Linked DNA regions of Homo sapiens: region 1 is linked to region 2. The links come from fine-mapping of genetic effects on gene expression. A gene starts in region 2. The other region holds a variant in brackets. All regions are shown on one strand. Distances are between the middles of the regions.

Region 1 (2,914 bases), 81 kb before region 2:
GGTGAAACCCCGTCTCTACTGAAAATACAAAAAAATTAGCCAGGCATGGTAGCGGGCGCCTGTAGTCCCAGCTACTTGGGAGGCTGAGGCAGAAGAATGGCATAAACCTGGGAATCGGAGCTTGCAGTGAGCCGAGATTGCACCACTGTACTCCAGCCTGGGTGATAGAGTGAGACTCCGCCTCAAAAAAAAAAACAAACCAAAAACCCTCTCCGGATGTTTGCATCTGTCTCTCTGCAGTTGGGAGACATGCCATACCTGTCCTGATTGGTGTCACAGGAGTCCCCAACCAGATCATTATCCACATCAGACTGCAAAGAGAACAGCACATGTTATTTATTCCTGGGCCTGCATGTACCGAATGTTCCAGAGAAGGCAGACCTCACCCATCATCATTGGATTTGGGGAATTATTTCTCTGGAACCGGGGTGGTGCAAAACTGCAAAAGGACAACACCATATTGGTGTAGGCACAATGCTGAATTTTCAAAAAAGCCTTCTAAAATATCAAGCTACATGGATGGGCTGCCCACACACCAGATGAGCTGATTGGAAAGGGGCGCTGGGGTAGCATGGTGGCAGGTGGAGGCATGGAACTCTGGCACGGGTCACAGGGAGCCAGCCATAGGCATGGGGAGAAGGCAGGTTGATTTTGCTTTGCTTCTGCAATTTGCAATTTGGCCAAAATCATGAGTGAGTCACAGAGGGCAACCATGACTCCCCTCTCTCAGGGCTTTAAAAATAAATGACACATCATACCCAATTATCCAGACAGGGAGGAGGAGTGAGAAGGGAGATGCAACACATCCCTGGCTGAACTTAATCTGAAATGTCCATACATAGGCTGTGTAGGGGTTTAGGGACTAAAGGGACACAAGGCTCCCAATGGTTAATTTCCATGCTCCGTTTTCCTTTCTGCAGGAAAAATACTTGTATTGAGCATCATGAAGTTCGTGTTACTAACCTCACAGGCAATCGACAGCCTGGGAGATAGTCCCTAGGGCTTCAGATCTTGTGTGGTGTTCATCCCACCATCTTCAGGCCCACAGTGTGTCATTTTTCCACCTCTGCTTTGTTAGGTAAGTGGCAACAGCTAAGAGGCTCTGCTGTTTTTCTAGACACCCGTCTTAAATGAGTCTTTGCATAGAGGAATTCAGCCTGGAGTTTGAATTCCCCAGTATCCTACTAACCTGGTTAGGGTTGCTGACATCAGGACAACTGTCACAGGCATCCCCCACACCATCACCATCCTTGTCCCGTTGGTCACGATTGGGAAATTTTGGGCAGTTGTCCAGAATGTTTTTTATTCCTGTGAGAAAGAAATGCTACCTTGAGTCAGGGGAATGTCACTGACTTCT[TCTA/A]GGTGCTGGAGAGATCAGGCGCATGGTGAGTCACTTCTGCCTGGGCCAGTGTCACACAGAGACTACCCTTTTCTGCAGTTATCCAGAGGTAGCTTCAAAGGACGGATTCTGGGAGACTTAAAAATGAACAGCTCTCAGAGGTATTTATCGACTGAATTCTAATTTGTCCAAGATGTCAAGGGCTATGATAGCAACCACGAGGAGGGGATCATGATGGCTGTATGGCTGACCCTGGAGAGGGAGGATCTCGTGGGTATCTGAGCTATGACTGAGACCCTAGGGCTCTAGGCAGTGTTGTGCTGGAGCTGGGTCCATTGTGTCCCTCTCTTTTCAGTTTTGTGTTTGATGATGTCACATTGGTAGCTTGAAATCAGCAATGAGGACAATGCGGAGTTACATCATGGAAACTGGAAAATGCTACCAACTAGGGCTTTCTGTGATTTGCTTACCAGCATATACCACTGGAAATGGGTCATCAGTTAGGCTTGCAGAAGGTGAGGTCATGTTTTAGGGGGGTGTGCATGTTCTGGAGTGGTGTATGTGTGTGTGTGTGTGTGTGTGTGTGTGTGTATGTGTGTGTTGGGGCAGGTGGTATTTCAAAAAGGTTTTTCCTTCAAGGGCCCACAATGGGATGTGTAGCCTGTGATGCATAGTCTGTGACCCTGCTCAATGCCTTCTCATTCAGTTCTCCACTTCTGGGTCTCTCACATGTAGAAAGGATAGTGGAGAGTGAGGACAGGTAGAAATGGGAAGGGAGATACCCCATAAAGACACACTCTGACAAGACACTGCTTGAAGGGGTCATACAAAGTTTCTGGCAATGATACAGAGTCCTGGAAACATCCAGAGCCATTAGGTAGTGGAGTGGGCTGTGGGGTCTCCTTCCATAGACACAAGTCCACCTTGGGTCTTCCAGATGCAGGCCACAATGAGCCACCCACAGCTGGAAGGCTCCGAATCAGTCATTCTATTCCTACTCTCTCAGAGAACAATGGAACAAGGTCAACTGAATTCCAAATAAAAGACAAAAGCAAGATAAATCTACCATCTCCATCCATGTCATCATCACAGGCATCTCCTCTTCCATCCCCATCGGTGTCTTTCTGGTCGTTATTTAAGACACTCAGGCAGTTATCACAGGCATCCCCAAAGATATCTTTATCGCTGTTCCTTTGGTCCACATTATGAATCAGGACACAGTTATCCTAAAAGATGAAAGGACAGAACATCACTCAGACTTTTACTAAATCCACTTCCTCCATTGTTGTGAAGCATCAGCACTCTGGTGGCCCAAGTTTGTCAGTTTTATATTTCAAACATCTGTGAATCTTATAGGGTAAAAAGCTGCAGTGCTGTGGAATGCAGGCATGGAAACTAACATTTGGGATGATTCATATACATAGTTGACATCACAGGCTTTCTCCCATCATCCCTGGTACGTGGCAATTCACAGGCCCTCCCAGCGAAGCAGGTACCTGCTCATTCAGGATCCCATCTCCGTCAGCATCCTCGTCACAAGCGTCGCCAATGCCATCTCTGTCTGCATCTTCTTGG
Region 2 (2,914 bases):
CCATTACAATCTGAAAGTTGAATTACTTTACTTTCTTTATACTGAAGACTCAACAGATAGTCTCCACTGATCACACAGAGGATGCACTGTCCCTCCTTTGTGTTTCTGTAGTATTTTGCTTATATTTCTAACCCTACTCGTGATTATCTGACTTGTTACACCTTGGTGTGTGTATATCTCCTTTGTGCACTGTAAACTCCCGAGGACAGAATTCATGTTTTATATATTTCTGTATTGTTCCAGAACCTTATGATGTCTAAGACATAGGAGCTGCTCAATAAATGTTTCGACAGTTTTAATGGTACATATGTTATGCATTTTCCAATTATACAGTTATTATTAATGAATTCTCATTTCTGACATATCTCTTTTTCATTTCTTAGAACTCTTGGTTTTGAAACATGTAAAAAAGACTTTAGCAGGCTGGCACTGTAATTTGAATGATTATGTAAACAGTAAGGGAGTGCCTAGCAAATATTTGTTGAATAGTAATTTTACGAAAAGTTGCAGAGGTTTCTTTTGAGTTTTAGTTAAGAAGATCCGACCATCTCAGTGGAATAGAGGAAAGAACTCAGAGGCATGACTGCGAGGGTGTCCCAGAAAGACTACTGTGCCTTCTAGAAAAAAGACCCAGCACCCAAGTTCTAACTCTGAGACCCAGTCATATGTTTGGATCATAGCATTTCCAAGACCAAAATTTCCTCTTTAATAGTTTTTCTGAGAAACTGTCAGGTTTAACGTCAAGAAACATTTAGTCTGTGCTCATTAGGCCCACAGACATGACGAGCTACATGATTTGAGGGGCCCAGTCCAAAATAAAAATGCAGAGCCCCTTGTTCAAAACTTAAGAATTTCAAGACAGTGACGGAAGAGCATCAGCCAAATGAGGAGCCTTTTTAAGCACAGAGCCTTGTGTGGCTGCACAGGTCCCAAACCTATGAAGCTAGCCCTCTTCTGTGAAAGGCAAAAGGTCTGTAGCTAGGGAGAGAAGCTACAATTCAAATATGCACAAGGGGCTACAAGAACCCAGAGCTCCTAACTTTGTAAAAACATCACAGGGAAGGTGAGTTAAGCTCATTTTTGAGGGAGCAGCTGCATAGGGAAGAAAGATATTCCAGATTGAAGGACCAGCACTGAAGGTGGGCACAATTTACCTGACGTTCAGAAATACTGTAACTTTTAAGCAGGGTTGTGCCAGTGAACATGAGGGTGAGAACAGGTTGAGGCTGGAAAGGCAGGCAGAGGCCACATACATGGGAGAAGGGGTTGAACAATTACTGAGTGCCTCCTGTGTGCCAAGTTCTTTCTCTCCGACATTGTAAATACCACAATCTTGTAAATACTGGGTCATCCCTGTTTTACAAACAGGTTAATTTAGGCATCACACAGATTTAATGTTCAAAGGGTTTGGAACACTCTAGGGATCTAATAAATATTAATATTTGAAGAATTACTGGTGGGTCTGACTTAAGGCACACAACTCTTACCCTTTAGGCCAAGCTGCTCCTAAGAGTTCTTCTTAATCCCTCCAGTCGTTGTTTCTCTCATCTCTCAAGAGCCCCCAAATTACCCTTCCCTCCCTTAGCCACGCCCCCGCGTTTCACGTGCCGGAAATTAGGAGGAAAAGTACTTCCGGGATAGTAAAGGTCGGCCCGCGCAAGATGGCGGCCCCCTTGGAACTCAGTTGCTGGGGAGGCGGCTGGGGACTCCCATCGGTTCACAGCGAGTCCCTGGTGGTGATGGTGAGGCCGCCTCGCGGGCCAGGGCGCAGGAGGAAGGGGCGGGGCTGGAGGCGCCAGGCTGACTTGCCCCAGTTTCCCGCTGCGCTGCGGGGTCCAGGAGGGCCGAGCCGCTGCACGCTGCATTGCCCTGGGCTCCCTCCCACCGACGAGTCCCAACCTGGCCGATACCCCCGCCGAAGGCCGGCGGCGACATCAAGGCTTCTCCGCTTGGCTCCGAGTTTTGTCCGCCTCACAAAGCTGTCTGGGCGGTGGAGTGAAACCCCGAAGCAAGGGGCGCGCCCTCCCTACTCTGCATCCCCAGGACCTTTTGGGGAGCAAAGTCCTCGAAAGCCGGGTGGCTGGCGCCCGCGTCCCTACTTGAGATCACGGGGAGGGATGCGGCCTCAGTATCAGTCGCCTTCTGCCTTTGGGGGATGGGGCTGTGAAGTAAAGCTGCTCTGCAGCTTTGCATTACGCACTTGGTCTAAAATGTTTGATTGCAAACTCTGTTTCAGGCTTATGCCAAATTTTCTGGTGCACCCTTGAAAGTCAATGTGATAGATAACACCTGGAGAGGTTCAAGAGGTATAGTGTAAACCTTTACACTCCCCTTTCTGCACTCTTTTTTTTCTTCTTCCATTTAAAGCTGTGAGGTATATAGCTATAATATTGAGGATTTAGTTTCTTACCGTGACCTTGGCTCTGTGTTGTTTATGGTTTGATCATTCTGAGTAATACCTCAAAGTGCAAGCGAAATCACTGGAAATTATGAGAAACGAAAATGTTCTTTAGAACCGCTCTTTGTGAAACAGCAAAAAAACCAAGACAAGCTTACTCATTTTTTCCCCTCTAAATGTGCAACTGCTATAGTTTTTAGGATATTGGAATCTCTCAGAGGAAATCACACTGTGTCCTTGTATGTAAACTGTTTTTTGATTATAGGCGATGTACCAATTTTGACAACTGAAGACGACATGGTTTCTCAGCCAGCAAAAATACTAAACTTTTTAAGAAAACAGGTGGGTGGTTCACTTTGAAGAAGTAGATTGGTAGATTGTTGATCCCTGCATGTTGGGCTTTATTTTATTTATTTATTTTTTTTTGCCAACTCATTAGACAATTGGAGATACCTGGGACAAGATGTAAAAATAGATTTGAGAATCACTGCTCTAAAGCATGAGTTCTGTGATTTG

Evidence for each region. PIP is the estimated chance that this variant, and not a neighbour inherited with it, causes the effect.
Region 1: its variant is fine-mapped to the expression of MTX3 in whole blood (INTERVAL, PIP 0.96).

The regions. Positions count from the first base shown.
Region 1 is chr5:80,070,672-80,073,585 of GRCh38, reverse strand. It overlaps THBS4 (thrombospondin 4), which reads right to left. Exons shown (of 22, transcript NM_003248.6): 12 at 2,836-2,914; 13 at 2,406-2,565; 14 at 1,190-1,308; 15 at 259-311. It overlaps THBS4-AS1 (THBS4 antisense RNA 1), which reads left to right. Exons shown (of 8, transcript NR_109930.1): 4 at 921-1,078; 5 at 1,363-1,500; 6 at 1,695-1,854. Among named protein-coding and RNA genes, the nearest start is that of THBS4-AS1, 12 kb to the left of the region's middle. RefSeq lists an enhancer at 2,198-2,914. The variant TCTA/A (reference allele first, on the strand shown) is at 1,358.
Region 2 is chr5:79,989,986-79,992,899 of GRCh38, reverse strand. It overlaps MTX3 (metaxin 3), which reads left to right and starts at 1,638. Exons shown (of 9, transcript NM_001363818.2): 1 at 1,638-1,742; 2 at 2,237-2,306; 3 at 2,664-2,740. The coding sequence starts at 1,662. It also overlaps a transcript of THBS4 not described here. RefSeq lists an enhancer at 1,971-2,140.